Regions from separate parts of the Homo sapiens genome. Here regions 1, 2, 3 and 4 are each linked to region 5. The links come from fine-mapping of genetic effects on gene expression. A gene starts in region 5. Each other region holds a variant in brackets. All regions are shown on one strand. Distances are from middle to middle.

Region 1 (5,106 bases), 92 kb before region 5:
ATTCACAATGAACAATCTGAAAATGAAATGAAGTAAACAATTCAATCCAATAGTATAAAAAGAATAAATTAACAGAATAAGTGCAAGACTTGTACACATGAAACTATAAAACTTCATTGAAAGGAATTAAAGAAACAAATGGAAATACATTTTGTCTTCATGTATTGGAAGAATCAATACTCCCCAAACTGATCTACCAATTCAGTGTAATCCCTATTGAAATTCCATCTACCTATTTGTAGAAATTGACAAGATAATTGTAAAGTTCATATGAAAATGAAAGGATTTACGATAGCAAAAACAATCTTGAAAAAGAACAAAGTTACAGCACTCATACTTAATGATTTTAAAGCTTACTTCAAAACTATAGTAATCCAAACACTGTGGTACTGGCCTACAACAGACATATAGATCATAGGACAGAATTGAGAGTCCAGAAATGAGACTATATACATGTAAAAAACAAGTGACTAATTGAATTTTGACAAGGGTAGGTACCAAGACAATTCAGTGAGCAAAGAACAGTCTTTTCAGCAAATGGTGCTGGGATAACTGGATATCTACACACAAAAGAATAAATGTAGACCCATATCTCACACCATATACAAAACTTAACTCAAAATAGATCAAAGACCTAATTGTAAGGGCTAAAACTATAAAACTTCTAGAAGAAAACATAGAGGTAAATCTTTGCGATGTTAGATTAGGCAACAGTTTCTTAGATATGACACCTAAAGCATGAGCAACCAAAGGAAAAATAGATACATGGACTTTAAAATAAGAAACATTTGTGCTTTAAAGGACACTATCCAGAAAGTGAAAAATAACCCACAGACTTGGAGAAAATATTTGCAAATCATATAGTTAATGAGGGCCTACTATCAAGAACATGTAAAGAATTCTTACAACTCAAGAATAAAGAGACAACCCAATTTTAAAATGGGCAAAGAATTTGAATAAATTTTCCCAAAGAAAATATACAAATGGCCAATAAGCACATGAAAAGATGTTCAGCATCATTAGTTATCAAGAAAATACAAATCAAAAGCATGAGATATCACTTCACATTCACTAGGACAGCTATAGTAAAAAACAAATAAAATAAAATAACAAGTGCTGGAGAGTGTATAAAGAGATGTGGAGAAACTAGAACCTCCATATACTGCTGGTGGGAATGTAAAATGGTATAGCCAGAAATCAGTTCGGGATTTCCTCAAAAAGTAAAACACATCTACCATATGATCCAGCAATTCTACTCTTAGATCCAAGATAATTGAAAACATGTTCACACAAAAATGTACACAAATGTTCACAGCAGCATTATTCATAATAGCCAAAAAGTTGCAAACAACCCATCAGCTGATGAATAAGTTGCAAAAATGCCCATCAGCTGATGAATAAAGAAAACATGGTATATACATACAATAGAGTATTATTTGGCCACTGATATATATTCAACATGGATGAACCTTGAAAATATTCTGCTAAGTAAAAGAAGCTAGATACAAAGCCCATATATTATATGAGTCTATTTATATGAAATGTCCAGAATAGGCAAATCATAAGAGACAGAAAGCAGATTAGTGTATTTCAGGGCTTGGGAAGTGACTAATAGGTATGAGGTTTCTTCGTGGGGAGATGAAAATGTTCTCAATTACATAGTGTGATGATTGTACAACCATGAAAATATATGTTTTAAAATGGTAGATTTTATGGTCTATAAATTATATTTAAATTTTTAAAAATTAAGTCGTCCCTAAAAATTTGCCAAAATTAATTTAAGTGAAGTCTGTTACCCAACTTCAAACTATACTACGGGGCTACAGTAACCAAAAAAGCATGGTGCTAGAACAAATACAGACACACACCAATGGAACAGAATAGAGGGCCCAGAAATAATGCTGTGCACCTACCAGCATCAAATCTTTGACAAAGCTGACAAAAGCAATGGGAAAAGGACTCCCTATTCAATCAGTGGTGCTGGGATAACTGGCTAGCCATATGCAGAAGATTAAAACTGGATCCCTTCCTTATACCATATACAAAAATCAACTCAAGATGGATTAAAGACTTAAATGTAAAACCCAAAACATAAAAGCTTTGGAAGATCACCTAGGCAATACCATTCTATACATAGGAACTGGCAAAGATTTCATGATAAAGATGCCAAAAGCAACTGCAACAAAAACAAAAATTGACAAATGGGACCTAATTAGACTAAAGAGCTTCTGCACAGAGGAAAAAAAGAAACTAATCAACAGAACAGACAATCCACAGAATGGGAGAAAATACTTGCAAACTATGCAACTGACAAGGGTCAAATATCCAGAATCTATAAGGAACTTAAATTAACAAGCAAAAAATAAACAACCCCATTAAAAAGTGGGCAAAGGACATGAACACTTTTCAAAATATGACATACATGCAGCCAATAAGCATATGAAAAAATACTCAACATCACTAATCATTAGAGAAATGCAAATCAAAACCACAATGAGATACCATTTCATACCAGTCAGAATGGCTATTTTTGAAAAGTAAAAAAATAACAGATAGTGGTGAGGTTGCAGAGAAAAGGGAATGCTTATACACTGCTGGTGGAAATGTAAATTAGTTCAACCACTGCAGAAAGCAGTTTGACGACTTCTCAAAGAACTACCATTTGACCCAGCAATCCCATTATTAGGTATACACCCAAAGGAATATAAATCATTCTACTATAAAGACACATGTATGCATATGTTCATTGCACCAACACTGTTTACAATAGCAAAGACATGGAATCAACCTAAATGTCCATCCACGGTAGACTGGATAAAGAAAATGTGGTACACATACACCATGGAATACTACACAGCCATAAAAAAGAATAAGATCATGTCTTTTGTAGCAACATAGATGGATTGGAGGCCATTATCCTAAGCAGACTAATGCAGGAACAGAAAACCAAACACGGCA[T/C]GTTCTCACTTATAAGTGGGAGCTAAACACTGAGTACACATGGACACAAAGAAGGGAACAATAGACACTGGGGCCTGCTTGAGAATGGAGGGTGAGAGGAGTGTGAGGATTCAAAAAACTACTGATTGGGTACTATGCTCAAACCTGAGTGACAAAACAACATAGACACCAAACCCTTGCAACATGCAACTTATTTATGTAACAAACCTGCACATGGACCCCTGAAACTAAAAGTTAAAAAGTCTCCATCTTGAAACTATTAATCCTAAATGCTTTCCCAGCTCAAAGGATCTATGTCTTTGACTAGCATTTTAGTCAGTTCGACTTAAAATTCACTACTCTTTCTTCCTTGGGTGGGAAGCCCTTCTTCATTTCTCCCAGTCTACACCTTCCAGCCTCTTATTATGATGATTTAGCCCACTAGGTCTCATTCTTTTTATCTGACTTGTCACCAATCTCCTTATCTATATAATAAAGGGACTCCCTCCCCTTTCTAACACTTCTCCTGTACTTGAACTTGACTTCTGTGTTTTAAATAGGTAGGACTCTTTTTCCTTCAGCAATTAACAAACATCAAATGGAACACAATAGCTTTAAAAGGAATTACATAGAAATTGTTTCACAATGGACTTTAAAACTGTACTCCTTAAGTTCCCAGTGGCTAAAAATAGTCATTTGTTTGCTCTGCCAGGAACTCATACAAAATAGGAAAATTTTCCCCGCTCCATGTTTTATCTCCTCTACACAATAACAAAATAAGTGCAACAGACTATTTTAGCCAGACATAAGCCTGTCAAAGCTGAAAAACAGGATTCAGAGGAAAGGGTAGATAGGAGCTTTTCTACTCCACTCCCATGAAACTGACAGCTACTGCTGTTATGAACCAATACATCATTATTTACATTGGGTGTGGGAATATGTAAGCTTTGTAAGAAGCACAGAGAGCCCTTTGACAACTAGGTCAATTCTCACAATGGCAACACCCTAAGCAGCATTTCCAGGGGTAGCGGTTGTAATGTGCTAAAGCTGGCCTGTATCAACTTGCAAGAGCCAATTGTTAAATTTTCAGGAATTTTGAGATATAGTTGTCAAATACAATTACTATTAAAAATTAAATTATAGGCCAGGTGCCATGGCTCACGTCTATAATCCCAGCACTTTGGGAGACCAAGGTGGGAGGATCACTTGAGGCCAGGAGTTCAAGATCAGCCTAGCAACACAGGGAGACCTCATCTCCAGAAAAATAAAAAATAAAAATAAAAAATAATTATCCAGGCATGGTGGTGTGTGCCTGTAGTCCTAGCTACTTGGGAGGCTCAGGAGGATCACTTGAGCCCAGGAGTTCGAGGCTTCAGTGAGCTACGATCACGCCACTGTATTCCAGCGTGGGTGACAGAGCAAGACCCTGTCCCTAAAAAAAAGGAAAATAAATAAATTATATAAACTTATAATAAATGATATAGGAACAAAAGTAATAAATACTCAAAATTCATCACTTCCTAATCATTTCATCACAGTTTATGCTGCAATCTTGCGGTTCTTTGTGCCTACTGCATTTGTATGCTGAAAATACTACACAATGGTGTGTTCATGCACATCTCTTCCCAACTCCACAGCAGTGATGGCAGCTTAAAATTAGCCATGGTGGGTGTGCTTATACCATGGAATTGGCAAATGCCATAAATCAGAGCTTATTTTTCTGGAAAGGTGATTGCTAAATATTTACCAACACACCACTGGACAGCCATAAACTGTAGTCTGTTTTTCCTCTGGAATAGCCTATTGGTTCCACTTCGAAACTCTTATTCAGTGCTTAGCATCCTGATTTGCATCTACATATGCCTGATATATAAGCTAATGATAAAAGTTCACCAAATGAAGCCACGCAGTCTGTTACCTATTTAAAAATTGATATTTTTCATAGATTTATTGAATGTTAAAGTTGGAAGGAGCCTTAGAAGGCATGTATCGAAACTGTTCACTAGTGGAAGGACTCTCCCCTCTGACATTCTCGGACAGATGTCAATTTAGTTTCTCTCCTCTCTGTGCTGCCACGTGTGCTATTCCCTCCACGTGGGACATTCTTCCTACCATCCTGCCCTTGCCCAGGTTCATCTTTTTCTGGATCACTCTTTGTCACTCTTAAAC
Region 2 (5,106 bases), 78 kb before region 5:
ACTTCCAACCTACAGCAATAGGCATCAAATCATCTCATTCTCTAAAATTGAGTTGACGTGATCCTGGACTGGTTATACCCACAGGCGCTAGCAGGAACAAACATAATCCTTCTCTGAATGTTGATGACACCATCCTGGACCTCAGATTATCTCTGCAAACAATGTTTCAAATATAATGTCTGGCAAACAATTTAATTTTTTTAAAACAGCCACATGACTAGACAAGCAAACATGAATAAAACCAGGAATATAAACTCACCAACTGAGGCTCCAAACATTAAAGTTATCAGATAGAGACTCTAACTATCAAAGAAATACAGACAAGAAAATTATAATAAATGAGAAAACACAAAAAATGAACAAAAGGACATTAAAGACCTGAAAAATGCAATTGCAAAAATTAGAAACTCAAAGGATGGTCATAATAGCAGATTAAACTCAGCTGAACTGGAAGAGAAGTCAGAAAAATGAACAATTAAAATGCATCCAGATTAAATCAAGGAGAAAATACAAAATATTGAAAAGAATACAAGAGACATATGGAATAAACAAAATTGACAAACTCTTAGCTATACTAAGAAAAAAAGAGAATACTCAAATAAAATCAGAAATGAAAGAAGAGATATTACAGCTCATGCTACAGAAATAAAAAGAATCATAAGAGACTACTACGAACAATTATACGCCAACAAACTGGATAACCTAGAAGAAACAGAAAAATTCTTAGAAACATAGAACCTACCAAGATAAATTCAAGAAACAGAAAGTCTAAACAGATCTATAACTAGTATGGCAATTGAATCATTAATCAAAAACCTCCCAACAATGAAAAGCCCAGGATTATAGACTTCACTGGTGAATTCCAAATTCATTTTATAAGAGCTGCATTAGCCCGATACCAAAGCCAGATAAAGATACCACGAAAAAGGAAAACTACATGACAATATCTCTGATGAATACAGATGTAAAAATTCTCAACAAAACACTAGCAAACTGAATTCAACAGCACATTAAAAGGATCACAAACCATGACCAAGTAAGACTTATCTCTGAGATGCAAGGATAGTTCAACACATGAAAACCAATCAATGTGATACACCATATTAACAGAATTGAAAATAAAATCACATCTTTGTCTCAATAGATGCAGAGAAGCATTTGGATAAAATTCAACACTTTTTCATGATAAAAAACAAAAAAACTCTCAACAAACCAGGAATAGAAGAAAACAATCCCAACGTAATAAAGACCATATATGAAAAGCCCATAGTTAACATCACACTCAAAGGCGTAAAACTGAAAGCTTTATAAGATCTGGGGCAAGAAAGACATCCTATGTTCATGGATTGGAATAATTAATATTGTCAAAATGCCCACACTGCCCAAAGCAATCTACAGATTAAACGCAATCCTTACCAATATCCCAACAGCATTTTTTACAAAAAGAAAGCAATCCTAAAATTCACATGCAACCACAAAAGACCACAAATTGCTAAAGCAATCTTAAGAAAGAACAAAGCCAGAAGCATCACACTTCCTGATTTGGAAATATATTACAAAGCTACAGTAATCAAGAATATAATACTGCCATAAAGATAAACATATTGACTAATGGAACAGAATAGAGATCCCAGAAATAAACCCATGCATATATAGTCAACTGACCTTCAACAAAGATGCTAAGAATACACAATGGAGAAAGAACAGTCTCTTCAACAAATGGCACTGGGAAAACTGGATATCCACATATAAAAGAATGAAACTGGGGGCAGATTCCTAGATGGCCGAATAGGCACAGCTCCAGTCTGCAGCTCCCAGCGTGAGCGACAAAGAAGATGGGTGATTTCTGCATTTCCAACTGAGGTACTGGGTTCATCTCACTGGGGCTTGTCAGACAGAGGGTGCAGCCCACGGAGCAGGATGGGGCATCACCTCACCCGGGAAGTGCAAGGGGCGGGGGAATTCCCTTTCCTGGCAAAGGGAAGCCGTGATAGATGGTACCTGGAAAATCGGGGCACTCCCACCCTAATAGTGCACTTTTCCAAATGACCTTAGCAAATGGCATACCAGGAGATTATATCCCGTGCCTGGCTTGGCGGGTCTCACACCCACGAAGCCTCACTCACTGCTAGCACAGTGGTCTGAGATTGAACTGCAAGGTGGCAGCAAGGCTGGGGGAGGGGCGTCCGCCATTGCTGAGGCTTGAGTAGGTAAACAAAGCGCCCTGGAAACTCAAACTGGATGGAGCCCACCACAGCTCAAGGAGGCCTGCCTGCCTCTGTAGACTCCACATCTGGGGCAGGGCATAGCTGAAAAAAAGGCAGCAGAAACTTCTGCAGACTTAAACGTCCCTGTGTGATGGCTTTGAAGACAGTAGCGGTTCTCTCAGCACAGAGTTTGAGATCTAAGAACGAACAGACTGCCTCCTCAAGTGGGTCCCTGACCCCTGAGTAGCCTAACTGGGAAACGCCTCCCAGTAGGGGCCAACTGATACCTCATACAGCCGGGTGCCCCTCTGAGACAAAGCTTCCAGAGAAAGGGTCAGGCAGCAACATCTGCCATTCTGCAACATTTGCTGTTCTGCAGCCTCCGCTGGTGATACCCAAGCAAACAGGGTCTAGAGTACGCCTCCAGCAAACTCCAACAGACCTGCAGGTGAGGGTCCTGACTGTTAGAAGGAAAACTAACAAACAGAAAGGACATCCACACCAAAACTCCATCTGTACGTCACCATCACCAAAGACCAAAGGTAGATAAAAACACAAAGATGGGGAGAAACCAGAGCAGAAAAGCTGAAAATTCTAAAAATCAGAGTGCCTCTTCTCCTCCAAAGCAATGCAGCTCCTCGCCAGCAACGGAACAAAGCTGGACGGAGAATGACTTTGACAAGTTGAGAGAAGAAGGCTTCAGACGAT[C/T]GGTAATAACAAACTTCTCCAAACTAAAGGAGGATGTTCAAACCCATTGCAAAGAAGCTAAAAACCTTGAAAAAAGATTAGACGAATGGCTAACTAGAATAAACAGTGCAGAGAAGTCCTTAAATGACCTGATGGAGCTGAAAATCACAGCATGAGAACTACGTGACGCATGCACAAGCTTCAGTAGCCAATTTGATAAAGAGGAGGAAAGGGTATCAGTGATTGAACATGAAATTAATGAAATGAAGCGAGAAGAGAAGTTTAGAGAAAAAAGAGTAAAAAGAAACGAATGAAGCCTCCAAGAAATATGGGACTAGGTGAAAAGACCAAATCTATGATTGATTGGTGTACCTGAAAGTGAAGGGAAGAATGGAACCAAGTTGGAAAACCACTCTCCAGGATATTATCCAGGAGAACTTCCCCAACCTAGCAAGGCAGGCCAACATTCAAATTCAGGAAATACAGAGAACACCATAAAGATACTCCTTGAGAAGAGCAACCCCAAGACACATAATTGTCAGATTCACCAAAGTTGAAATGAAGGAAAAAATGTTAAGGGCAGCCAGAGAGAAAGGTCGGGTTACCCACAAAGGGAAGCCCATCAGACTAACAGAGGATCTCTTGGCAGAAACTCTACAAGCCAGAAGAGAGTGGGGGCAAATATTCAACATTCTTAAAGAAAAGAATTTTCAACCCAGAATTTCATATCCAGCCAAACTAAGCTTCATAAGTGAAGGAGAAATAAAATCCTTCAGAGACAAGCAAATGCTGAGAGATTTTGTCACCACCAGGCCTGCCTTACAAGAGCTCCCGAAGGAAGTACTAAACATGGAAAGGAACAACCGGTACCAGCCACTGCAAAAAACATGCCAAATTGTAAAGACCATCAATGCAGGGAAGAAACTGCATCAACTAACAAGCAAAATAACCAGCTAACATCATAATGACAGGATCAAATTCACACATAACAATATTAACCTTAAATGTAAATGGGCTAAATGCCCCAATTGAAAGACACAGACTGGCAAATTGGATAGAGTCAAGATCCATCAGTGTGCTGTATTCAGGAGACCCATCTCACATGCAGAGACACACATAGGCTCAAAATAAAGGGATGGAGGAAGATCTACCAAGCAAGTGGAAAACAAAAACAAAGCAGGGGTTGCAATCCTAGTCTCTGATAAAACAGACTTTAAACCAACAAAGATCAAAAGAGACAAAGAAGGCCATTACTTAATGGTAAAGAGATCAATTCAAAAAGAAGAGCTAACTTCCTAAATATATATGCACCTAATACAGGAGCACCCAGATTCATAAAGCAAGTCCTTAGAGACCTATGAAGAGACTTAGACTCCCACACAGTAATAATGGGAGACTTTAACACCCCACTGTCAACATTAGTCAGATCAACAAGACAGAAAGTTAACAAGGATATCCAGGAATTGAACTCAGCTCTGCACCAAGCGGACCTAATAGACATCTACAGAACTCTCCACCCCAAATCAATGGAATATACATTCTTCTCAGCACCACATCACAATTATTCCAAAATTGACCACATAGTTGGAAGTAAAGCACTCCTTAGCAAATGTAAAAGAACAGAAATTATAACAAACTGTCTCTCAGACCACAGTGCAAACAAACTAGAACTCAGGATTAAGAAACTCACTCAAAACCGCTCAACTACATGGAAACTGAACAACCTGCTCCGGAATGACTACTGGGTACATAACGAAATGAAGGCAGAAATAAAGATGTTCTCTGAAACCAATGAGAACAAAGACACAACACACCAGAATCTCTGGGACACATTTAAAGCAGTGTATAGAGGGAAATTTATAGCACTAAATGCCCACAAGAGAAAGCAGGAAGGATCTAAAATTGACACCCTAACATCACAATTAAAAGAACTAAAGAAGCAAGAGCAAACACATTCAAAAGCTAGCAGAAGGCAAGAAGTAACTAAGATCAGAGCAGAACTGAAGGAGACAGAGACACAAAAAACCCTTCAAAAAAATCAATGAATCCAGGAGCTAGATTTTGGAAATGATAAACAAAATTGATAGACTGCTAGCAAGACTAATAAAGAAGAAAACAGAGAAGAATCAAATAGACACAATAAAAAATGATAAAGGGGATATCACCACCGATCCCACAGAAATACAAACTACCATCAGAGAATACTATAAAC
Region 3 (5,106 bases), 160 kb before region 5:
CCACCTCACCTGGCTAGTTTTTGTATTTTTAGTACAGACAGGGTTTCACCATGTTGGCCAGGCTGGCCTCGAACTTCTGACATCAAGTTATCCACCTGCCTTGGCCTCCCAAAGTGCTGGGATTACAGGCATGTGTCAACGCACCCAGCCCTAACCCTGGGAATTTCTATAGGACCTAAGTCAATGCCAAAAAGCCATTAAAACGGACACAACTCATCAAAAATTGTATATGAAATCAAAAGGGTCTGAATGTGGAAAAATCAGACAATAATTTGACCCTTTGGCCTGAAAGGGTGAAAGCTAAGTGTACCTAATGACCAACATCAGTAAAACCATGAGCACTGTGTATAAAGTGAACATGGACTTGTTTTCACATTCTTTAATACAGAAACAATGTACCTTTAGACTCTTAATAGAACATGGCAAGCCTGTAAAGCTATTACTTCAATAAGTGATCTAGGTCAAAACTACAAGAACAAGCTTAAAAGCTGAGTTCAATTCTTCATAACACAATATCAACAAATGTCAGCCATCCTCATTACTGTCAACTCCAACATCTGAGGGCAATCCTATAGATAACAACCAGATTTGTCCAATGACAACCAGACAGATGTAATTAGATTCATCACAGGGGCAACTCTGTGTCTATTCTTCAACTCTCAGGAATATATTTTTATACTTCATTGATGAAAGAATAAAATGGCATAATTTCATTATACTTCCCAAACTGCTGGTCTACACTGTACATAAGTATAATAATCTCTACATCTTTTAACAGTTACATTTTTACTAATTTTCTTTATATTTTTCTTTATTTAAAAATCTAACTCATGAACATTTTCTGAATAAGTCAAAATTTGATTTTTTCATAGTAATGATGATGATTATGATGACTTTTGTGGGGGGAAAAGTTGCTTTCATCCTAGTGGTTTATCAAACTAGACCAGACAATAGAGCTTTTTCATTTACCAATAGGTTCTTACTAAGTATTTATCAGTATCATATTGTTCTGCAAACTCTTATTTTAATACTTTTTATCTCTCTAGCTCATTCTGATTTCCTCTCTCTCATCCTATTCACCTTGCTATTGTTTAGTTTTAAAATGCAATTTAAAAAGCTATGGAAAACAAAATAGCCAGAAAAATGGCCTTCTGGACAATTACTATCTATTAAAACAGTGCAGGCCAGCAAAGGCCTAGTTCATTGAGCCTGTTATCAACCAGTGATATGCACATCCACCAATTTCTTAGCTGCCTCTGCATTGCCTGACTAGCATGCAACTATAGCTTAAGGGCTACATCTTAAAAAATTCACTTTTTTTTCTGTTCTTTGCAATTTTATTTACATAAAAATGTATCTAATGGTTGGTCAATCAGCAGCATACAAAATTTTATGACAGCAATTTCCTGCACATCCAGAAAAGGGAATCCAAGACACGAAAAATATCTCTTAAAGTCTTCCTACTATTTTGTTGCATTCATAGAAATCAAAACAGCAGAGGACAAAAACTACAAAGAATATTTACTTATGCTAACTTCACCTTGAGAAAGTATGTTATCACCATCTGATTAAATAGAAATGAATCAAAGGTAACGGATAAACAAGAAAATAAACCCCCTGGAGAAGGTAATATGTTTGTGCTCTTGATTAAGGAAATTATAACACCATTGGGCTCAGACAGATTAATGAATAGGCACTGATTAGCTAAGTAAGAGTCTACTGTAAAGAGAAGACAACATTATTATGGTGATATGCAGTCACACTCTGAAGCAGAAAAATTAAAATTATATTTCTAAGAAAGAGAAAGATATTTAAGATATAATACATTCACTTTCCTTAACACCAAGTTCAAACTAAGAAGGCAGCAAACACTACATGAATTGCATAATATTAGATTATATATAGGATGTTTGACTCATGGTTTCTAGAAAGTCTTCAGAGTATAAAAGACTAATTTAAAAGTTATATTTGAATTAAAGACTAAGGCTCAGAATTTTTGCACTATGATTTTAATCAGCACAAAACGATGATCAAAAACTTTTTGAATACTTTTATACTTTATGTAATCTAAGCAACGATGTGTGTTGACCAGCTGAGTTACAGCTACAATCACATCATCCAATTTCTACTGCCTGTATATTCCATTTCACACAACTGTGAAAATGTAACTACTGTGATGTCAATATTTAGAAATGATCTGGAAGAGGCAGTGCATAGTGAAATCTTCAATATGACCATAAAACTAATGTTGCATCAACATAAAAATGTTCACATTCAGCAAGAGGCAGAACAATGGTCACTAACTTTTCAGAACACCTCTTAGAAAATTCACTTTAATTCAATTTAACAAACATATTGAGCACTGAATGTATGTCTATTATACCAGATACCAGGAATGCAAAGATGAATAATCTAAGGTCTCTGTCCTCCATGGAATTTAGAACAAGGAAAACAGATACAATATATATAATATTATAATATGGTTTTTAAAAGCTTTATGAGGATACATAAAAGGGAACAATGAATTCTATTGGATTTACACATGTGTAAACCTTCCTGGTTAAATGTTCCTATTTTATTATTTTTTCTTTCAACATTACTGTTTTGCATGATACCTTAAAATCTTTTGTGGAGCATGAGAAAGTATATACCTAATAAATGTAGGAACTCTGCTATGGTGGGGTAAAGTAGGAGTAGAGAAATAGAAGGCCTTAATGTTTGAGCTGGGTCCACCCAGGAGAGAATCTTACAGAGAAAAAGAATACACACATACCCATACACACTCCAGAGGCATATGACACAGGGTGTGTCCGAGTATTGA[A/C]ATGTGACCTGGAATCATTATAGCACAGTGTAGGTGCACAGGAATACATATCCAGCCCCAAACTGGAAAGGCATTCTGGAATCAGGTCATGAAAGACCTGCTCTGCTATGCCATGCCATGCCATGCCAAGATGCTCTGACACTTCTCCGTATACAAATACATATATATATGTATTAGATTACATATATATTATATTATAATTATATATATATATATATCAGAGGCTTTTATATATATATCAGAGGATTTTAATCAGGAAAGCAGTATGATCAGATTTGTGATTTGAAAGGACACCCCTGGCAGCAACGTGAAGGACAAACATGGGGAGGGTGACCAGAAGTAGGGAGAACAGTCAGAAAGACCCTGCAATAGTCTAGAAAAGGAATCATAAGGAGAAAAGATACAGGTGAAGAGAAATCAAAGAATAGGTAAGGATATTTCAAAGGAAAAATGAGCAGGACATGGAGTTTGACTGAATCTTGAGAATGACAGAGAAGGAAGAACAAGAATGACTGAAAGCTCCAGCAGCACAACATCATTATGGGAACTGGGAACTGTAGAATACTCCCTAGATCCTAAGTGACCCTCTGCCTAGTTAGTGCCCACTCCCACCTATGCTCTGCCTGTATGGGTAGAACAAGTGCCAGGCCACAGTACCTCCCTACACCTGATAAGCTATAAGTGAACCTCATGAGAAAACACAAAGAAGCTTTTGGTTTGTAGCAAAGGATACGGAAGGTGTTAAGATTTTTCATTTTGCTCAGATCATATTGTTGTATTTATAGATCAATGAAAACCAAAGCTGAAAGTTATAAATTTACAGTATTAAAAAATACCTCAGGGATGTATGTATACCTGACAACTAATAAGAGAGCTTTTAGAATGATCTCCCAATTGGTTTTTAAATCACTTTTTAAAAATATATATTAGTTTTAATTTAAAGTCTATATCACTCTACTGTTAGAAACTATCCACTCATCTTAAAGTGTACATTTAGCAGGCTACTTACAACATGTACATTACGACGCCTATGCTCCAAATGTCACACTGCTGGCTATAGTCGTGGGCACTGATAACTTCAGGGGCTGCCAAACAAGCAGATATAAAATAACATTAATAATACAATAAATGTCTTTTAAATGCTTAAACACAAGCATGAAAAATGTGCTGATGTGCTGTAATTTATTCCCCCATAGGGAAAAGAGAACCAACAGCAGATCTTAAATGAATAATGCACAGGCCTTAACAATTGATGTCACTGTAACCTCACTCCTATCATTTAGCTTCTAATGGAACAATGGTGTAAACTGTATAACTAAATGCACTACCCTTTATTTCTTTAAATTGTTAAGAAATGATTTTGCAAAGATTCTGTAGTTATAGTAGAAGACAACAATATCCCAGCCCTTTCCACAAAATAGAATTAAATATATGCCTTAAGTAGATGTAACATAATGCAGGCCCAATATGTGGAAATCTGGATTCACAGAAAAACTAAGGTACGTGGTTATAAATCACTTTAGTAAAATAATAATAGCATCACTCCTATAACAGAATATGAACTATTTTCTGCATTTTCAAATAAGAAAGCCAAGACAAAGAGAGAGCTCCTATAAAACTGGATCAAAAAGCCAACTAGTCACAGGACATAGACTATACTAAATATATATATGTGTGTGTGTGTGTGTATTTTTTTTTTTTGAGACAGGGTCTCACTCTATTGTCCAGGCTGGAGTGCAGTGGCATGATCACAGTTCACTGCAGCCTCAAACTACTAGGTTCAAGGTATCATCCCACCGCAGCTTCCTGAGTAGCTAGGACTACAGGTGCATACTATCATGCCTGGCTAATTGTTTTTTAAAAATTATTTTAGAGATGGGGTCTTGCTGTGCTGCTCAGGCTGGCCTCAAACTCCTGGCCTCAAGTGATCCTCCCACCTCAGCCTCCTGAATAGGTGGGATTAGTGGCGTGAGACACCACACTCAGCTGGCTGCCTTTTTAAAAAGTCACAAATGACACTGCAGGAACATGTCTATTGTACCTCTATAGCTATGAATCAGATATATTTAAGAAAAAATAAAAAGAAAATAGTTATAAGCAGAAAAATACAATATATGTATATATTTCAATAGAACTTTAAAATTTATACTTTTGCATAAATTGTTATTTGTATGAAGTATGTTAAGAATTCTGTGAGATAGATACGTAAGCATTTGACTCCCTTTGCCAATGAGGAAACTAAGTTTCACATATATTAAGTGACTTGCCTAATGTTACACAGCTGC
Region 4 (5,106 bases), 31 kb after region 5:
TGTTCAAAATTCTCACACTCTAAGGCAAAAGACAAACAAATACCTGTGACACACATTTGTGGCAACAAACCCCGTCATGCATATCTTCTACTTATATCTGCTATTCATACCTTTGGCCACACATCTGTCATACAGTAGTTACCTACACTATAGTCATTCATACATAGTGGTGACAAGTCTGCCGTGGATCTCCTTCTTGAGAGGAGGAAGCCCACCTTCTTTTAAAAAGATGAACACAAGTAACACTCAAGAGGCTGCCTATGGGTAAGTGTTGGGTCAGGCACTGATGGGCCAGTTTCTCACCTTCAAGATGAGCTCAGAAATCACTTGTTCTCAGTACACCAGTGTTGCCTCCTCTGAGGAGTCTTTTTGTCCAGCCTCTGCCATGTCAGCCAAGTGCTGGGATTCCAGCAGTGCTTGAGAATCCAGCTCACACTCCATGGAAAAGAGGCTCCCAGGGAGTTCTCCCCTGAGTATGCAGTCTATGGAGATGGGCAGGAGGCAGTGATGGGGCAAAAGGATGAAACTAGCATCCATTCAGCACCAGGCAAGGTCCTAGGCACTGTACATGCGCAAGCAGGGTCTAAAAAGTTTAACTGCATAAAATGCAGAGTTACATTATTGTGTGTAATAAGAACCAACGATTTTTCAGTTGGCCTTTCAGTCAGTGTGAAAAAAAAGGAGAAAAATTATTTCTTTCGTTTTCATTTATTACACATATAGGAAACAGACTAATCATTACAAATTAAACACGCATCATACATTGAACGAAAAAAGTCCCAAATGATCATCAGGAAGTCGCTTCCTGACTTCCCAACTAGCCCTCACCTTCCACAGAAGAACAAACTTAGCCTAGCCTGGTTGGAGAAGGGGCATGGGAAGCTGAGAAGCGAATCAGAACCAATCTCCAATGGTCCAAATTGCCTTCACTATGAGGCACAACACAAATCCACATTAGTGTCAGGTACCAGGAAAATCCTTACTACTCAGAGGAAGTTATCAAATGATTTCACTATAGTTACTGGTCCCAGTAGCCTAAGAAGTAGGTGCGATTGGCCCCATTTAGAGAGAAAGAAATCAGTTGAGGGAGGTTAGGTATCTTACCCGGGATCACAGGGAGAGAGAACTGGTTTACCAAATTCCATCTATCGGACTCCAAAGTCAGACATGCTCTTTTCCCTATAACATTTTGTCAAGGCTAGCCCTCCTGGGCTGAGTTCTGTTTCCCCCTAGGTATAATGCAGACCCCCAGGACTCTTTGCATGGGGAGTGTTACAAAAAGAGTAAGTCCTGGCCATGCCTAGATCAGCCATGGCCACAGTGAGGGAAGCAGAACAGGTGTCACTAAGACAGTTCCGGAGGAGAGAAGTAAATTCAGCCTCAGAGAGATGCACTGCTTCCCCAGCTTAGAGCTTGTCTGCTGGCCTCTCTTACCTAGAAGTGCTGAGTCCATCTGCTCAAGTCTGTGGCCAACATGAAGGGCAGGCTGCTTGAGTCTCACCTTTTGGGTTCTGGTACTGCTGCAGAGCTGTAGACGTGCTGACCACTGGCGCCAGTGGAGGTTTCTTCACAGAGAGGTTAATTGGCTCCTCCAGTTCTGAGGGGATGGCCAAGTCCTTGGGAGCATCCAGACCGGGGACTATGGGACCTTGTCCCAGTAAGTCAGTGAAGCGAGTGGAATCCTCACTTTCCATCTTTCAAAAGTGAAATGTCGACAAGAATCAAAGAACTCAGACATGGTTGTCATTAGTGGTCTCAGAACTGTTAAGCTAAGGTCAGAATAAGGGTCCCAGTGGCCAATCTTTTGCCCAATGATGAACAAAGGAAGTTTGGATAGCATTTCCCCAGGACTTACCTTACACAGAGCATTCTCCAGGGAGGGATCAGCCCCATCTCTGGGACACAGGCTCCCTGAAGTTCGGCCAGAACTGGAGCTGGACCCAGTTTCTGGCTGCATGTCAGAAACTGGAGGGATGCTCTGCAGAGGACAAGTTGCCAGACTCGGCACAGCCTGGGTGTGACCAGACATTAGGCTGGGCCCAGCCTGAGGGTGATCACTTGCCAGGCTTGCCATAGCCTGAGGGGAGTCACTTATCAGGTTGGGCATGGACTGGAATGTGCTATGCACAAGGCTGGGCACAGTCTGTAGGTGACTGGTTGTCAGGCTGGGCATGGCCTGGTTTTGAACACTTGTCAGGCTGGACACCATTTTGGGGGGAGCACTCAGCAGGCTTGGTACTGCCTGGGGGGCACCAGCTGTCAGGTTGCTCACACTCTGGATCTGTGGCTCTAGGGGCCTCTCCAACCTGGTAGATGACAACTCCATCTCCAGAGTGTTGGAAAAGCCCATGATGCTCA[G/C]CGAGGTGGAGTGCTGCAGGAACAGAGACAAGGGGTAGAGTCAGGCTGCTAGCTGGGAATGGAGGGAGGGAGAGGAGGGACCCAACCCACAGGAACTCCCATGCTCCAATTCCACTCTGGCTTCAGAGTCTGGTAGCTGCTGGTAGCTGCCAGGAACTCAGGCAATGCATGAAGCCCTGTTCCTCTTCCTGAAACCAAGGAGGCTGCTAGGCTATGACATAGAGAGAGAGGCACAAGCGGAGAACTATTGTGTGTGTGTGTGTGTGTGTGTGTGTGTGTCACAGCAAGAGTGAGAAGGAGAACTTATTGCCTGACCTGAGGCATGTACACACACACACAGACACACACACAGACACACACACACACAGCCATATCCCTCACCCCAGTCTTGTACCTAAGCAAAGGGTCCGGCTGTGGGACTGCCCTCTAACTTCAAATTCCCCTCTGACTATACCACCAGTGGCTTCTCTTCCCGTCAAGGGGTGCTATAGAATAGTTTCTGCTATACAAAAGTAGCAGGGGGTTGAGAAGGCTCAAACTCTTATCTGCCTCAGACCTTCTTTGAGAGAATGCCAAGGCTCAGAAAGTTCCAATCAGTCCTGGGGAACCTGGGTCAACTGCAGGGCCTTCTTATGGGGTTGTTCAGATCAACTCCAAGCACTACTAGCATTTGATGTAGGCTTTAACCAAGATATTTGAAGGTCTTTTCTGGCCCTAGTATACCTGCCAAAGATATTCCAAACCAGAGGCAGAGAACATCAAAGCAGCTAAATCTTAATATCACCCAATCCGTACAATCATTGGATAAGGCAGTAATGTTCTGACTCCAAAATTATTTTCTTACATCTGAGGAGAAGAGATGTAAAAGGTTTATAAAAAGAAGTTGAAGATACAGATTTCTGTACTGAATCCATTCCATTTTTCAGATTGAAGAGACAGATTTAGGGAAAAGGAGGGAGACTGGCTCTAAATATAATCTTCAGGAATGTGTAAGTTTCATATCCCTGCCCTTTAAAAAAAAGACTAAATATATAACAATTTCACATCTTTTGAAAAACAAAGAGAAAATGGGAATTAGGCATATCTATCTAAGTTTCCAAAATCAGTGTCTTGAACCTGTCATTTCTTCCCCATTCACATTTTCACAGGAAAATAAATACTTCAAATACATTCTCAAGTTTCAATATAAAGTTACTAAAGCTATTTTGCCATGAACACTGTCCTCATCTCAGTGAAAGTCACTCCTAGTCATTCAGTTCTGCAAGTCAGATCCTAGGAAGGAGGCATCAGTGAAGCATCCCTCCTGCCACACCCAAGCTAATACCAAGCCCCATCAATTCTACCCCTTAAACATCTCTCAAATATACCCACTAATTCTTCCCTCTGCTAATGGTGCCCTAGCCTAACCTACTTTCACATCTCCCTAGACAACAGTAGTAGCCTCTTCAATGGAGAAGTATTTTCAAAACACGGATCCGATCACATCATTTCTTTTCATAAAACCCCGCAGTGCGCTACATTCTTCTTAGAATAACTGCAAAAATCCTTAACAAGACTCCCGAGGCCCTGATGACCTGTCCTCTGTCCTCCTTTGTAGCCATAGCTCATTCAATAACCCTCTCCTCATTCACTGAACTCTAGTCACTCATTTTTTCCAGTTCCTGAAACATACCAAGCTCTCCCTCCACCCACTATCCTCACCCCCTTCAGATGGACTGCTTTCTCTGCACAGAGAATTCTCCTACCCCTGCCCTGTTCCACTTATCCTTCAGAACTCAGCTCAACTGACATTTTTTGCCAGAAAGCCTTCTTTCATTCTCTAGTCCAGACTAGGTTCCTGCTTTTATGCTCTCATATGCCTTGTACTTGTACTTTCAGCTTCATACCACAATCCGTGATATCATTTGATTAATGTCTGTTTCCCCTACTAAAGTGTAAACTCCATTAGGGTACGGATTTTTATCTATTTTGCTTACCCACCATATTCCTAGACCCAAGAGCAGTGTCTGGATGAATAAATGAATTAATGAGCTGTTTAAAAATTCAAAACAACACTAATACAGGACTGTTTATTCTACAAATCTTTAGCCAAATGAACAGCAGCTTAGGTCTACTGACAACTTAGTCTATGAGTCTCTCTAAAATAATGATTATTTTTATACAGCTAAAGTTTATTGAGAATTTATTATATGCAAGGCAATTTGCTAAATGTTTTACATATATTACTTTATTTAATCCTCACAATAACCATTAAAGGTTAAAAGAAACAATCCATGTGAACATTTAGAACAATATCTGGCATACTGTAGATGCTCAGTAAACCCCAGTTGTTTCTACTGCTGCTTCTATTATTTTTATTGTTATTATTGTTGCTGCAGACCTAGTTTTACACTTGACAAAGATGAGGCTCAGAAGGGCATCTTAAGTTTTTTCATGTTATTATAAAACATAATTTTGTAGATTTCCATTTCTCTTTATTGTTTGTGTACTGTATATAGAAATACAATTGATTTTTGAATACTGACTTTGTATAGACCTTGCTAAAGTCACTCTGGGATTTTCCTTTGGATTTTCTGTGCACACAAATCATGTGCATCCATGAATAGTAAGTTTTTGTTTTGTTTTTCTGAACAGGGTCTTGCTCTGTCACCCTGGCTGGAATGCAGTGGCACAACCACAGCTCACTGCAGCCTTGACCTCCCAGGCTCAAGCAAGCAATCCTCCCACCTCAGCCGCCAGAGTAGCTGG
Region 5 (5,106 bases):
TGGGCTGGGGAAGATAAAAATCAAACAATTAAACAACTGGTAAGAAAAAACTAAGACTCCAATACAAAAACCATCAAAAAGCTTTTGCTAATAGCTAACAATAAGATTTCACTTAAAACATATTAATAATGACAGATGTGAGTTAAAATAAGGAGGTGCCATTTTTATCTGTGAAATTAGCAAAGTTTTTAAAATAATAATGCTAATATGGGTGTCATAAAACTGACGGTGGCAATGTAAATTGGCATAATCTTTCTGAAAAACAGTATGGCAATGTTTCGATGTTTTGAGAGCATTCACAATGTTCCTGCCCTTTGACCTCCCTATAATTTCATTTTTGGGAACTGTTTTTTTATTTTTTTTTGAGACAGGGTCTCACTCCATTGCCCAGGCTGGAATGCAGTGGCAAGTTCACTGCAGCCTCGAACTCTCAAAAATATCTTGGTCTGGATGGTCATGTACATGGTCACCCAACTTTTTGGCCACATTAAGAGTTTTGTCTTTATTCTAAGAATAATGAGAAGCCATGATGGATTTTGAGCTAGAGGAGGTTGGGGGGTAGCATAATCAAATTTTAGTTGTGAAAATACTACTCCTGCTGCAGGGCAAAGAATGGATGGGAATATTGAAAGGAAAGGATAAATACCTTTAGATTAGTTAAGAGGCTACTACTGGACAACAGATCATGGTAGATTGGTCTAGGGTAATAGTAGCAGAGACAGAGATACTCAAATGGATTTGAGATTTGGTTTGAAGATAAAATGAATAGAACTTGATGATTGTTTGGATATGGAAAGGAAGAAAGTGCGAGGTGTCAAGGATGAGGCCAAGATTTCTGATTTGCAAACTAGAGGTTGGTATGACCCATTGAGATAGCAACAGAGATTTACACGAGCTAAAAATTTAAATGCGCGATATATCTGCATATCCATCACTGTCTAAAGGCACGGGCCTGGAGAACAAGGAAAGAGTTTGGGTTCAAAACTTGTTGATGTTCCTTTCCATTCACAGAGCCCTCTTTCAAGGCAGGACTATCCTATTTTCTGGTTGGATATTGGAGTCATTTGGTGGTCAGGCAAAAAAGAAGGTCCTTCTTAGCTGGTGATATGGGACGGGGAGCACCAGACCACTCTTAGCATGCAAATATCCCTTACTAACGCTCAAGTGCTTTTCACATGTACTGTTCACAAAACAGCTTCACATATAGGTTCACTGAAACCCACGACCTTGTGAGAAATTATAATCTACATTTAGGAAGCTGAGGGAGAGTTCTTAAATTACCTGTCCACAGAGCCAGTACGGGGCTGCTTTATGTCATCCTTTCACCTCCTATGTGCAGCCTCTAGGTGCAAGAGACTATCTTAAGGGCAACAGGAAACCTACCATATAATGGGGTCCCACTAGGTACCAGGCTCTAGCAGTTTAAAAAAAAGAAACACAACTTCAGAACTTCTAAGGATGTTTCCCACACACTTACCCCACAGTAAGTTCGCTTCTAAACTTTCAAAAAGTTTCACGTCCCAAGATGGGGTGAAGGTGAGACGGTGGAGATGAACCGGGGCAGACAGAGACCACCCCAAATACCGGACCCGGGGGAAATGGGGTACCAACGGCTGGGCCCCAGGAGACACTCGGAGGGGTCCGCGGGCTCGGCCCGGTCCCTCCGCTGGGGGGTTACCAGCCGGCCGGCAGCGAGATACCCAGAGGCCCGTTTTTCCACCGCGTTGCCATAGCAACGGCCTGGCCGGCTGCGCCCCGGGCCGCCCGCCCCATCCCGCGGGCCCGCCCTGAGCCAGTGACTCCAGGGACCACTCACCGCGGCCGGCGGACTGGCGGGTCTCCGACAGGTGCGCACACTCGGCGCAGGCTGTCGCTGAGCCCGGAATTCTGCACCGGGAGAAACTTTTCAGCCCGCAGAGCAACCGCAGGGCAGTGGACGGGGGCCGCGCGAGGACAAACAGCGGCGGCGGGTGCAAAGCCCCTTCTCCAAGCCGCGGGGTTGGCCGGGAGGTGCCGGCTGCACAACGGCGCCCACGTGACCCAGGTGCAGCCCCAGGCGCGCCCAAGGGCAGCTCGCCTTAGAGAAGGACCTAAAACCCCGTCTGGGGCACAGAGGAGCAGCCACGTGTTACGTAAAATAAAGCTTTGTAGCAGGAATATCACAGTACTGAGGTGATTGATGCTCAGGCCACTCTTCTCACTCGGAGTCAAGCCCATCAAGCCCCAGCCAGTTGGAGCAAGGGCTGCAAGCCTTGAACTGCAGTGAGTGGGGAGCTGGCCTAAAAAGACGGGAAAATGCTGGGGGGAGGGTGTTTGTCCCCACGCAGGGGCTGAGAAGACTCCTGACAGATCAAATGACGATTCTCAGGGATATGTTTTAGCTACAAACCTATGAGAACCATCTGAATGCCTGCCCCATGCAACAGAGGGTCCAGCTGTATGCTAATGTATTTACTGGCCTGAACTAAGAATGGCTTCTGTGGTCCTGGGTCCTACTCTCTAGCAGTGTGGGGAAGAAATTCAACTCTCCTAATACTAGCCTAATTATTTGAGGCAGATGTTCTCTAAAATTAGCTGATTGATAGCCAGTAACTTGATACGGCAGGTGGATTCATTGTATTGCTTCGGGGGAGGCTACATTTGGCAACTAGTTCATCCAGTCCTTTTCATCAAAAAACTCAAAATGGTCATAATGGGTGACTGGTAACTTCAAACTTCAAACCACTGGACTAGGCCGGGCGCAGTGGCTCACACCGATAATCTCAGCACTTTGGGAGGCCAAGGCAGGAGGATTGCTAGAACCCAGAAGTTCAAGACCAGCCTGGGTAACACTGGGAGGCCCCCATCTCTACAAAATTAAAAACTACCTGGCCACCAAAGGGCTGCAAGAAACCTACCATATAATGACGTCCTACTAGGTACCAGGCTCTAGGAGATTAAAAAAGATCTCCTAGGATAATCTCCCGCATCTTAAGGTCCTTAATCACATCTGTAAAGTGCCCTTTGCATATAAGGTAACATATTCACAGGTTCCAGCCTGGGCGACATAGCCAGCCCTGCCTCTAAAAACAAAAGCAACCACTGGACTGCGTTTTGCCCTGGATTAAACCAGACCACCAAAAAACTGTATGTTTGTACCATTTTGTCTTCACCGTTGGCAACATTGCATGAACCAAGTCATGTTTAGCACTATGCCATTTGCTTATATTAAGAGATGCTGTTTAAAAAAATTCATGATACCTCTGCATTTACTAGAGGGATTACTTTAAGAATGTTGTTTATTACATCTTTGTAGCAGAATCCTACCAGCTTGTCCAGCGCAGAGCTTTTCAAACTTTTTTGAGCACAATCCATCAAAATAAATATGTTTTACATTATCACTCAATACACAGGTACTCATATATTTAGTAAATGAAACAAGTTTTATAAAACATTACCCACATCACATGCTATGCACCCTGATACTTTTAATCTCTTTTTAAGGCTAGTTTCTACCCACTAATGGTTTCTTGACCTTCAATGCAAGTTGCATTTCAAAAACAGCAGTATAACCAGATGTCTTTTTCTGGAAACTAGACCTGGATCCTCAGACAAGGTAACCAGGCCACCTGACTACAGTTGATTGCTCCAATAGTAGGGACCTGACTCAAGATAAGGCAATCATATCCCTCTCCCAGGAATTTGGAATTAGGACAGAGAGATTGCAATCTTTCTCTAGGAAGCTAATGTGGAAACACAGAACATCTTTAAAATAGAAAATCAGAAGCCTTCAACAGACATACTTTCCCACCATGTGGCCAAAAGCAATGTAGAAAGCCAGGCTGCAGGGAAAATGGGAAAAGAAGAGGAAGGCTGAAAAAGATATACAGAAAGAAGAGACCAAAAGAGTTCTGACGGCTTTCCATTCCTAGTCATGGTATTTTCTGAAATGAATTGTATTCCTGCCTTTGAATTCCATATAGTATTTCCAACTCTTTGGAGTTGGGAGGAGGGGCCTACCACACTAATATAATCACCTATATGCCCCGTATAGGAGGGTCAATGCAAGAAATATATTTCAATCCTGAGTGCCAGAAAAGAACACTTTTTCCCTAGAGAAACTGACATGACTTTTTTTAATAAAGAAAGCAGACCATGAGATTGATCACATTTCCCTTTCACCTTGACTTCAGGAAGATAGCACCCAAATTTGCAACTCAATTTTAATAACTTTGTCAAACTACAGTTTGCATATCTGCATCACAACTTTCTCCTGTTCTCTTTCATTTCCCCTCATTCCTACTTTTATCTTTTTGTTGTACTGACTATTATTTTAAACTGCTTCAAATATTTTGCACTTGCTGTTTCCTCTTTCTGTAAGGCTCTGCCCCTGTATCTCCTAAAGCCTGGTTCCTTCTCATCATTCAGATCTCAGCTCACTTGCCACCTCCTCAGAGAAGCCTTCCTTGATCTTCCTACCTAAAATAGCCCCACCCCACAGTCTATCACATCACCCTGCTTTGTTGTCTCAGAGCACTTAACACCATCTAAAACAAGCTCTTTATTTTCCCTGTTTCCTCACCAGAAGCTAAGCTCCAAGACAGCAGGGACCTGGCCTCTTTGTTTATTGCTTGTTCCTAGTGCCTGGGAACAGTGCCTGGAACTTAGTAGCTAGTTAGTAAACATTATGGAGTTAATAAATAAAAGAATTAATAGAAGAAAGGAGGGGAGGGAGGGAGGCAGAGAGGGGAGGGGAGGGTTGAAGGAAAGAGATTTTGTTGAACATGGTAAGATATAGATGGATAGGTAAATAGGTGGATAGATAGACTGACAAATAGACAAATATTCATTTCCAGTGTGCAAATGTCACTAATATTTATAGAGAGGAACCAGAGGAACTATACAAGAAAGTAAAATATACTCGATTCCCTAAAATATATACAGAAAGATCCTAGGTTTCCTTGGGTAACTCTTGACATAATGCCTTAGACCATTTTTTTTAAGCATTCAAGTCGCTCAAGGCAGCTACATTAAATATTAGGGCTAGTAACCATAGCTGAAGTCATCAATTCTCAGTGAGATAATGGATTGCAACACCATGACCACTAACATGACAAATTCTTAACA

Direction of the effects. Positions count from the first base shown, and alleles are read on the strand shown. Sizes are in standard deviations (SD) of each study's normalised expression. Not every link is listed here.
In carriers of allele C in region 1, the expression in lymphoblastoid cells of the gene that starts at base 1,962 in region 5 tends to be higher than with T alone (large effect, 0.80 SD a copy in CAP).
As copies of A replace C in region 3, the expression in transverse colon of the gene that starts at base 1,962 in region 5 goes down (small effect, 0.36 SD a copy in GTEx).

The links. PIP is the estimated chance that this variant, and not a neighbour inherited with it, causes the effect.
Region 1: its variant is the best candidate, but not a certain one, in a credible set for the expression of STK33 in lymphoblastoid cells (CAP, PIP 0.57).
Region 2: its variant is the best candidate, but not a certain one, in a credible set for the expression of STK33 in atrial appendage (GTEx, PIP 0.88).
Region 3: its variant is the best candidate, but not a certain one, in a credible set for the expression of STK33 in transverse colon (GTEx, PIP 0.66).
Region 4: its variant is the best candidate, but not a certain one, in a credible set for the expression of STK33 in whole blood (TOPMed, PIP 0.75).

What each region holds. Positions count from the first base shown.
Region 1 is chr11:8,500,428-8,505,533 of GRCh38, forward strand. All of the region lies in intron 1 of STK33 (serine/threonine kinase 33), which reads right to left. Among named protein-coding and RNA genes, the nearest start is that of STK33, 91 kb to the right of the region's middle. The variant T/C (reference allele first, on the strand shown) is at 2,959.
Region 2 is chr11:8,514,607-8,519,712 of GRCh38, forward strand. The region is part of intron 1 of STK33 (serine/threonine kinase 33); the gene reads right to left. Among named protein-coding and RNA genes, the nearest start is that of STK33, 77 kb to the right of the region's middle. The variant C/T (reference allele first, on the strand shown) is at 2,916.
Region 3 is chr11:8,436,848-8,441,953 of GRCh38, forward strand. It overlaps STK33 (serine/threonine kinase 33), which reads right to left. Exons shown (of 16, transcript NM_001352389.2): 12 at 3,831-3,906. Among named protein-coding and RNA genes, the nearest start is that of STK33, 150 kb to the right of the region's middle. The variant A/C (reference allele first, on the strand shown) is at 2,822.
Region 4 is chr11:8,622,858-8,627,963 of GRCh38, forward strand. It overlaps TRIM66 (tripartite motif containing 66), which reads right to left. Exons shown (of 25, transcript NM_001388022.1): 16 at 1,856-2,371; 17 at 1,502-1,694; 18 at 1-19. Among named protein-coding and RNA genes, the nearest start is that of STK33, 31 kb to the left of the region's middle. The variant G/C (reference allele first, on the strand shown) is at 2,359.
Region 5 is chr11:8,592,267-8,597,372 of GRCh38, forward strand. STK33 (serine/threonine kinase 33) reads right to left here and starts at 1,962. Exons shown (of 16, transcript NM_001352389.2): 1 at 1,817-1,962. RefSeq lists a silencer at 1,525-1,784.